Regions from separate parts of the Homo sapiens genome. Here region 1 is linked to region 2. The links come from fine-mapping of genetic effects on gene expression. Tissue or cell type: whole blood. Region 2 holds a variant in brackets; the other region holds the start of a gene. All regions are shown on one strand. Distances are between the middles of the regions.

Region 1 (5,152 bases), 46 kb after region 2:
ATAAGGTTTCTACCCTGGGAACTATAAAAATGGAGATGCCACGAAATAAACAGGGAAGCTGAGAAATAAAGGATCGAGAATGGGCAGGGGATATTTTTGGACATGCTAGATTTAAGCATATCCAAGTTGAGCTATCCTAATACTATTCTATTGCATAATATCAGGTTGAAGCCAAGGTCCAGGGTGGGAATACATGGAGTGATTCATATCAATGCCTTATATTTATTTAGGGCTTTATCACAAAAAATTCATGTATTATTAATTTTGAGTCTCAAAACCTAGAAAGGTAGAAGAACAGAAATTACCACTTTCATCTCACCAATAAATAAATTAATGCTCAGAATTGGGGCCATGCCCGGTGGCTTATGCTTGTAATCCCAGTACTTTCAGAGGCCAAAGAGGGAGGGTTGCTTGAGTCCAGGAGTTCAATATCAACCTGGGCAACATAGTGAGACCCAGTTTCTACAAAAAAAAAAAAAAAAAAAATTAGCGGGGCATAGTGATGTATGCCTGCAGTCCCAGCTACTTGGGAGGCTGAGGCAGGAGAACTGCTTGAGCCCAGGAAGTTGAGGCAGCACTGAGCCATGATCATGCCACAACACTCAGCTTGGGCAACAGAGTAAGACCCTGTCTCAGAAAAAGAGAAAAGGAAAAAAAAAAAAAAAAAAAAAGAAATGAATGCTCAGAATTAATGTAACTTGCCCCAAGTCAGCTTGTTAGCAGCAGAGCCAGGAGAATTCTGGCTCTAGATCTACCCGTCATCAAATGCTGAAAGCTTCCAAGAAGAAGAAAGCTCAAGGCTTTTCCTCCAAAAGTAGTCATTAGCACAGAGGCAACAGTTGAGGCCATGAGACTGTGTAACTAATTCTTTGAAGGAGAACAGAAAAAGAATTCCTAGCAGATACCCATAATTAATTAAAAAGTGAAAGGAAGAGAGCCTAGTAAGAGACACCAAGTTGACAAGAATATGCAACAGGGGAGGGGGAAAAAAAAATCAAAACCAGAAAAGTGCAGAGTCAGGAAAGCCAAAAATGGAGTAGGTACTCAGTGATTTTAAATGCCAAAGTTGGAAAAAGGCGCGGATTTGGCATGAAGATATCACATTGTATGTGTGAAATTTTTTTCAAAAATTTAATTCTTAAAACATTAGCGAAATTTAAAAATTCCTTTGAAATGTTTATGACTAGCAACATCCATTTGGTACATTAATAAGGGGGACTGGATTTTTCATATATTACACTTCTTCAATGTTGAAAAATTACAAAGGCTAAGAAAATAAAACATCTATTAACTAGCCTTGTAGAAAAGTAATTTGATCTTTTAAATACAGATCAACTATATATAGTTCAACATAACCAGATGAGTTATTGCACTTTTTATTTGCTAAGAAAATATTTTCAGCTTTTACCTACTCCACATTTGAGAAGTTTTTGATATACATAAACAATAGTTTACTATACTTTTTGCTGCAATCTATTTTGTCAATTCAAAGGTTCAACAAAGGAAAAGAGACAGTTATACAAAGGCAAAACTACATGCATACCCAAAGCAAAATTACATATGAAGTAATTTACCAAGTTTTAATAGTAAATGTTATTAGAAATAATATGGGCAATCTTCTGATCATATATTTAACTTCAATCTTAAGTGGGAATTAGTACGCAGAGAAAAGAGAACTATTTTATCCTTATCCTAACACGAGGGATATAAAATATTTTTAATTCAAATCAACATTAATTAGTGATATATGGAGAACACAGCACCATCTTTGCACAAATCAAGTTTTAGACCCTTGGAAATAATATTTATCTTAGAGCTTTAAAACATTTAACAGGACTGCCAATGAATTAAAAGTTTAAAAGACGCAAATGAGCAAATCAAAACAACTTGCTACTGACCTTGTTCAAGTCTGAAGAGGGTCTTTTCCAGTTTCTCCATTTCGTTCAGAAGTAAAATTCGAATCTGTTTACTGTGTCCCATTTTGGCTTCTAGAGGATTTGAAATCTTTCATAAGAATTAAAAGAACTCCACAGTCGAATGAGTTACCCCTATGAAACAAAAAGGAGTTAAAATATCGAAAATAACTATTGCCTTAAACTCTCCAGAGCTGACAGCGGCACTTACATGTTCGAAGTGTGTTTTATGCCTAGCAGAGCAATGAAAGAGAATGAATCTTATAACTATTAAGATTCGAGAAGGCAAATTAATAGTTGTTTCCTGCCTTTGAGCACAACGAATAAGACCGAAATAAAAATGCTGTATTACAGATTCTTACAATTAAAAAATTAAAAACCTAGACCATTCTCAGAGAAAAGCAATACACTTAGGAAAGCCTGAAGTCAGGGGGACATTCCCAGCCCCAAGCCACAGGGCTCTGGAGACTCCGAATGGCACTTCTGCTTACAAGAGATTAGTCTGCTCAAAGATAACAGGTGGGCAATCTCCCCATTCCCAAATTCGGGTCGCCAGCCACCAATGGGGAGATGAGAACAGAGGGAAGCAGTTGTTGCCTCTGGAATAGCTGCCGTAGACAGAAGATGTACAGAGCGAGCTATAGATAGAAAGAATGCGTTTCCCCGCGAGGCCAGCGGCATTCCTAGCACTTACGCCGAGGGAGTTATACGTGCGGCTTCTGGGGCACTGCAGGACCCGCGACTCTGGTGCTACGGTCGGGGGGAGGGGACGGGGAGAAACAGAAGGGGAAGGGCTGGCTGCCCAGCCTCGCACAGAAGCCGCAGCCCAAGGAGGGCCGGGCGCCGTGAAGGGCAAAGGGAGGGGCGGCGAGCGACCGGGGCAGCGCCGAGGCAGCTGGGTGAGAAGCAGGCAGAGTCTCAGCGACTTCGCCTCGCGCGGGTTCCTGGGCGCACCCGGTACCCAACCTGGCCGTGCGCGCACTCGCCCCAGGTGGGAGCGGACCGTACCTCTGGCCCACTTCCGGGAGGCTCGACCCGCCCGCCCCGACCGCTAGTCTCGCGAGAGCGTGGGCACCGCACCGTCTCAGTCGGCTCCGGGCCGGGGGACCTGGAGCCTGCTGCGGCTGAGGCCGGGAGCGGCGCTTTCTCCTTGCCCTGGGGAAGGTGCACCGGCCAAGGCGCGGCCTTCCTTTAACAGCCTGCGAGCTCACAGTTGCACATTAAAATCCCGCGGTACCGGCTGCGAGCTAGGTTGAGCTGCACAGTAGGATCTTTTGCTGGGAAGGGCTGAATGGTGAGGGGCAAACGACCTGGCTTCTGGTGTCTTTTGTGCCACCACGTGTTTTGTTTCTTTGTTTTGATAATTTTTACTTGGCCTAAGTTCTCAGAGTCCTGATTTCTAAGTGTCTAAAATAAGGGGCCTGGCTACAGCCTTGACATTCCAGCCAACACGTGTCCATCACTTCTAGTGCTAACAGACAGGACACATGTTCCTGAATGCAGACCCAGTAGGTAAGGTGTGGCCAGTCTGCAAACCATCGAGAGTGCAAACACCACTGATACTTAACGGTGTCCGGGTGTACCTCATGTACACTAGATAGACCCGGAGATCGTCTGAGATTAAGCTGCACTTATGTTAGGCCAGTAACTCAGAACTTTTTGCAGATGCTTAAGGAGATTTAATGCCTGAGGGTAAAGGAAAACCCATCTTCCAGGGCTTTTGGAGGGCTCCTAATGGTTATGAGAAAATGGACAGAAGATTTGGTTAACTAAGACTTGTGGCGTGTGGAGAAGATTCTTGCATTCTTTATTGTGGAATGACTGTAGGTCCAAAGAGGATATAAGTTAAAAAAAAAAACCCCATACTGAAGTATTTGTTTATTTCTGTAGATTTCTGAGAATGGCTAGTTGCAAATGGTCCGTAACTGACTTTGGGAACCCACAGCTCATTTTCTGGCCCCTACTATTTGCCAGGCACATAAGGTGCTGGGAATGCAGCAATAAAACAGTCACTGCCCTCAAGGAACTCCTACATTTTATTGGTGGGAGACAGATAAATTAAATAAATTATACAGGATATAATATATCCTATATAATAAGAAGGATATGTTATATCCTATATATAATAGGAAGGGGGAAGTGTGGAAGAGTAAGCAGAGAGAGGTTTGCATTTCTAAATATAACGTTCAGTAAAGTGATGCCAAACTGCGAGAAAGAAGAAGTCTAAGGTAGAGGGTTACATGTAGAGGTATAGGAAGTACAAAGGCCATGAGGCAGGAGCATACTTGGTGAACCGAAGAAGATCACCATAGCTGAGTGAAGAAGAGAGTGGTAAGAGATTAGGACAGACAGATGGGGCAGGAGAAGGGATCAGGAGCACAGACGGGTGACCAGATCTTTTAAGGCTTTGTAGGCCATTGCAAGGACTTGGGCTTTTAAACTTTGGAAAAAAAGCCATGGAGATTTTGAACAGAGGAGTGACATAATCTGATTGACCTTTTAAAAGGATCGCTCCGCAACTTTATGGGAAATAGTTGAATAAACTGTAGAGTGTAGCAAGGAAGGAAGCAAGGAGACCAGTTAGAAAGCTATTTTAGTTATTCAAGCAAGAGAAAGTGACTTGTGTGTGTTTTCTCTGTGTCGGGGGGTTGGGGGTGATGGGGGGGAGGTGGTATAGCAGGTGGTGTAGTTGCTGAATTCTGGACTATTTTGAAGATAGAACCTACAGGATTGGTGGAGAAAGGAGTCAAGGATGACTCCAAGGTTTTTGGCCTGAATGAGCAGAAAGCACTGTCCAATAGAAATATTAAGTGCCACATAGGTCATTTAAAATTTTCAAGTAGCCACATTAAAAAAACTTTTTTAAATACAAAAATTAGCCAGGCATGGTGGCACATGCCTGTAGTCCCAACTACTGTGGAGGCTGAGGCAGGAGAATCGCTTCAACCTGGGAGGTGGAAGTTGCAGTGAACCCAGATCATGTCACTGCACTTCAGCCTGGGTGACAGAGCGAGACTGTCTCAAAAAAAAAAAAAAAAAAAAAAGAAAAGAAAAGAAAGTTTTGAAAAAGGTAATATTAATTTTAGCAATATAATTTACTTAATATATCCAAGGCATCATTTCAACATATAACCAATAGAAAAAGTTACTTTATTTTATTTTACTTTTTGAGACAGGGTCTCATTGTCACCCAGGCTGAAGTGCAGTGGTGCAATCATGGCTCACTGCAGCCTCAACCT
Region 2 (5,151 bases):
GATGCATGTTAAGTGTATGGAGAATAGGTGTGTTCCCCCAGCTCTCTTTCCCTCTCTGCTTGCCTCCTGGAGAGGCCCCAGAAGCCATGGAAACTGACAGATCCTCAAGCTGGAAGAAACCTGCTTCCCTGAATCAGTATATAGAAGGCTGCTTACTGAGCATGCGTCTACGACTACAAGCAAGAAATAAATTTTATTTGTGAAAAGCCATTAAGATTTTAAGTGTTTATAATTTATGGCAGCTAGCACTACCCTAACAAATACCCTCTGGGATAATATATTATTCTCTGGGAATCACCTCTAGATCGGGGTAGGCAAACCTTTTCTATAAAGGGCCATATACTAAGTATTTTAGGCTTTGTGGGACATATATGAATTCTGTTGCACATGCTTTCTTCTTTTAAATGACCCTTTAAAAAGAAAAAGGTAAAAGCTATTCTGGTAGGGCGCAGTGGCTCACGCCTGTAATCCCAGCACTTTGGGAGGATGAGGCAGGCGGATCATAAGGTCAGGATATCGAGACCATCCTGGCTAACATGGTGAAACCCGGTCTCTACTAAAAATACAAAAAATTAGCCGGGTGTGGTGGCGGGCGCCTGTAGTCCCAGCTACTCAGGAGGCTGAGGCAGAAGAATGGCATGAACCCGGGAGGCGGAGCTTGCAGTGAGCGGAGATTGCGCCACTGCACTCCAGCCTGAGTGACAGAGCAAGACTCCGTCTCAAAAAAAAAAAAAAAGGTAAAAGCTATTCTTTGCTCATAGGCCATACAAAACAGGTGATAGGCCACAGTTTGCTAACCAATAATCTAGACAGTTCTATGTAAAATTAAGCAGCACAAATTTGTGATATTGCATAGAGGTGATAATTGGGAGCCTAAACATTAATAATGATAAAAACTAACATTTATGAACTGTTTAGCATGTGGCAGATATTACTCTAGGCATGTGGCAGATATTACTCTAGGCACCTTAACTGTATGTGTTCATTTGATCCTCCCAAGTACCCAGTAAGGTAATTTGTCAGTTGGTAGTTTGGAACCAGGATTAGAAGCTGGCAGTCTGGTGTAAAGCCGAAGTTCTTAACCACTATACTATGCTGAATGCTGATGTTCCATTTCCTTCTTCTAAATCAGTAATTCAGGAGCATTTAGGGAAGAAGCAAACAGCTTCCTAAATTTCTATAGCTCCATAATGGTAATACAAAAAGGTCTTACTATATATCGGATTAACAAAAATGCAATTCATTTCAGATGCCCACCTAAAAACTTCAGTTTTAAAAGTATCAAAAATAAAATTTTGGCATGTAAAGATGCAAACTTCAGTTATTTTCCTGATGGCATCAAAACAAGGTATCGTATAAATGCCCTTTTGCTGAAAGTTTTATCTTTTAGAGCAGTGCTTTCAAACTTCAGCCTTAGACTGTTGATAATCATCCAGAGACCTTGTGAAAACACAGATTTCTGCCCACCAACCCTACTCTCTCTATGTCCAGGTTTGGATTTGGGAGGTTTGGCATAGGGTCCAAGAATCTGCATTTCTAACAAGCTCTCAGGTGAGGGTGACACTACTGATGTGTGGAATGCATTTTGAGTGGCACTGCTGTAGTGCTTTCCTTTCGACCTCCAATAAGTTCATTCATATTATTGTGACATTAAAAAAAATACCATTTTACGGCCGGGCACGGTGGCTCACGCCTGTAATCCCAGCACTTCGGGAGGCCGAGGCAGGCAAATCACAAGGTCGGGAGTTCAAGACCAGCCTGACCAACACGGTGAAACCCCGTCTCTACTAGAAATACAAAAATTAGCTGGGCGTGGTGGCGGGCGCCTGTAATCTCAGCTACTCAGGAGGCTGAGGCAGCAGAATGGCTTCAACCCGGGAGGCGGAGTCGGAGGTTGCAGTGAGCCGAGACTGTGCCGCTGCACTCCAGCCCGGACGACAGTGCGAGACTCTGTCTCAAAAACAAAAAACAAAAAACAAAAACAAAAAAAACCATTTTAAGTCTAGAAAACATAAAACTGGAGGTTACAAGGCTTGACAACAAATAGAGGGAAACATCAAGACTTCTACAAGACTCAGACAAAGAACTAGCAATGCCTTCACTATGGAAGGCATAAAAAGGTTATAACATTTTTAGTTTTGTTGAAATAAATTAGCTAATGCTAAAGATAACCTGACTTGTAATATGAAGGACTAGAACTTAGTGACTTCAAAGATTTTCACCCCTTTGAAATTTTATGATCCTATTAAGTGAACATACAAAAATAAAATAAAAACTACCTAAAGAAAATACAGCTCCCAAATGTTAAGAAAAGATGGACAAGAAGGAAAGTTTGAAGAGCATGTAAAAGACATTCAGACATAAACTCGCAGTACAACACTTTAGAGGCTCTCCTACCTGGCTTCTACATAGCGTC[C/T]AGTAATCAGCAGTATACCTCTAAGTGCAATAAAAGTATCCCTTCCCCAGCAGCGGAAAATACCAGAAGAAAAATGAGGTAAGCCTAACAAAAAAAACACAACAAAGTAATATGTTAATCATAATAATACACACAAACCTATGAACTCCATTACTATAGAACAGTTACTCTAAACCTGGGGTACAAGGCAGGCACCTGCAAATCCTCTAAAACCCTCTAAAATTATTTGCAAAATGTATGTCTATACTTATGTTAACTTCTGTCAAATGAGATTCCATTATCTTGTCAGATTCCTAAAGGAACCTATGACCTAAAGAAGATTAAGAACCAGAGCTATAGAGAGATACTTATCTAAATTGAGGTGTGAATACACAGATAAACTTTTCTTCTTTCTGAGAGAGGGTCTGGCTCTGTTGTCCAGGCTGGAGTGCAGTGGCACAGTCTTGCGTCACTGTAACCTCCACCTCCCAGGCTCAAGCCATCCTCCCACCTCAGCCTCCCAAGTAGCTGAGACTACAGGTAGACACCACCATGCCTGGCTAGTTTTTGTATTTTTTGTAGAGAATGAGGTTTTGCCAGGTTGCCTAGGCTGGTCTTGAACTCCTGAGCTCAAGTGATCTGCCCAACTTGCTTTCCCAAAGTGCTAGGATTACAGGCAGGAGCCACTGTACCTGGCCAAACTTTCTTTTATAAATTAAATCTAAAGAGTAAAATCAGAGATCAAATATTTAACACATAAACACTAAATATTAATTATATATTTAAAAAGACTCTACCTTGAACTTAAGGACAATAAATAAACCTAAACATGAAATTATTACCTTAATGATACCTAATTAAGTATATGGAGTCAACATTTGAGCACTTGAGTCAACATTATCAAATTTCCCACTAATTTAAAACAACTTAAAAGTGTTATATTCTGTACACAATATGTACAATTTTACTTGTCACTTCAAGTTATCTGGCACATTAAATCCTTCATTCTAGGTAATTGGAGGTTTTATATACAAGATAAAATAGTATGATTAATGGTGCAATCTAAAATTTTACTTAAAGATTGAGTTTGGTTTCTTATAAAACAGTAAGGTCAGGAATTCGAGACCATCCTGGCCAACATGGTGAAACCCCATCTCCACTAAAAATACAAAAAATTAGCCAGGCGTGGTAGTGGGTGCCTGTAATCCCAGCTGCTTGGGTGGCTGAGGCAGGAGAATTGCTTGAACCCAGGAAGCGGAGGTTGCAGTGAGCCGAGATCACGCTATTGTACTCCAGCCTGGGCAAAAAGAGCGAAACTCTGTCTCAAAAGAAAAAAAATTATGCCAAAGCATAAATATAACACATATTTTGGTTAGGGGAAACTGAGGACAAATAAAATATACACAGCATTCACTTATAACTATCTTAAAAGCACTTAACGCTATCTGAAAATTATCTTGTTTGCTATCTGTTGAATGCATATATCTTCCCAGTAGGAAATAAGACCTATGAGTAGAAACCTCATCTACCTTGTTCACCAACAAGTATGTATTCATTGAAAATTGTAACTGTATATAATATATACCTATAAATATTTGATGACTGAAATAAAAAACAAATATTAAAATGTAGATCGAAAAGTGAAAGAATTTGACTAAGATAAAAGAAAGTTTTGGCAATTCCTGAGTGTACTTCACAATTTAAGTTTCTGTTTATTGGGAATTAGATGTTAGTTTCTTCCATTAAGAAAGATAAGAATTAGACCTTTTTCCTACCTATGTTGTCTCCAAAATGACGGTACAAAATTTCCCCAAATACACTGTGTATTATTTATTTATGATTAATATGGTTTATATATGGTTGATATATACATGATATTAATTTTGATGATAGTGATGACAGCAGCTAACATATATATAGCACTCTGTGCCATACACACTTCCTGGTACTCTGACCCATTTAATTCCTTGTATGAAACATGAATACAGGTAGATTCAAAGGTGAGTCTGAATCGGTATATCCAAAAATATATGCGGTCTGTCTTTGTGAAAAAGTCAAAACTATAAAATCTCTAGCACTATGTATGGAAATGTTTGTATTAACTTTTTGACCTCTAAGAGTACACAACTAATAGATTCCATATCTTCTAAGTGATTTCTAATTTGTCAATTATTAGAACAGGCTACAAATTTTTTTTTTTTTTTGAGACAGGGTCTCCTCTGTCACCCAGGCTGCAGTGCAGTGGTGTGATCATAGCTCACTGCAGCCTCAAACTCCTTGGCTCAAGGGATCCTCCTGCCCCAGCCTCCTGAGTAGCTAGGACTACAGGTACATACCACCATGCCTGGCTAATTTTTAATTTTTTTTTTTGGTAAAGATGGGGTCTTGCTATGTTGTTCAGGCTGGTCTTGAACTCCCTGCCCCAAACGATCCTCCTGCCTCAGCCTTCCAAAGTGTTGGGATTACAGGTATGAACCATTGTTTTTAATTGCTGTTGTTGCAATACTATAACCAAAGGAAGACATCCCCAATCAGTTTAAAATGAACCCCAAAAAACCTATCTGCAAATCTGAATACAGTCCTATTTTTTACAAGTATGGAATAGGCAAAACATTCCCTTGGGATGCTAGGAGCAAATATCACACTTCTATTTGTATTTGTTTATCAACTTAATTTTTTAGTTTTTATTTGTTTTATATCGTACCTGAGAAGTATGTCAGATGTAACAGTTTATATCAGTATATCGTTTAAAGTGT

What was found. PIP is the estimated chance that this variant, and not a neighbour inherited with it, causes the effect.
Region 1: AGL starts here. The variant in region 2 is fine-mapped to the expression of AGL in whole blood (INTERVAL, PIP 0.91).

The regions. Positions count from the first base shown.
Region 1 is chr1:99,847,871-99,853,022 of GRCh38, reverse strand. AGL (amylo-alpha-1,6-glucosidase and 4-alpha-glucanotransferase) reads right to left here and starts at 2,662. Exons shown (of 34, transcript NM_000642.3): 1 at 2,608-2,662; 2 at 1,899-2,048. The coding sequence starts at 1,980. RefSeq lists enhancers at 1,568-2,541, 3,192-3,341, 2,542-3,516 and a silencer at 2,692-3,011.
Region 2 is chr1:99,893,635-99,898,785 of GRCh38, reverse strand. It overlaps AGL (amylo-alpha-1,6-glucosidase and 4-alpha-glucanotransferase), which reads right to left. Exons shown (of 34, transcript NM_000642.3): 25 at 2,398-2,500. Among named protein-coding and RNA genes, the nearest start is that of AGL, 46 kb to the right of the region's middle. The variant C/T (reference allele first, on the strand shown) is at 2,417.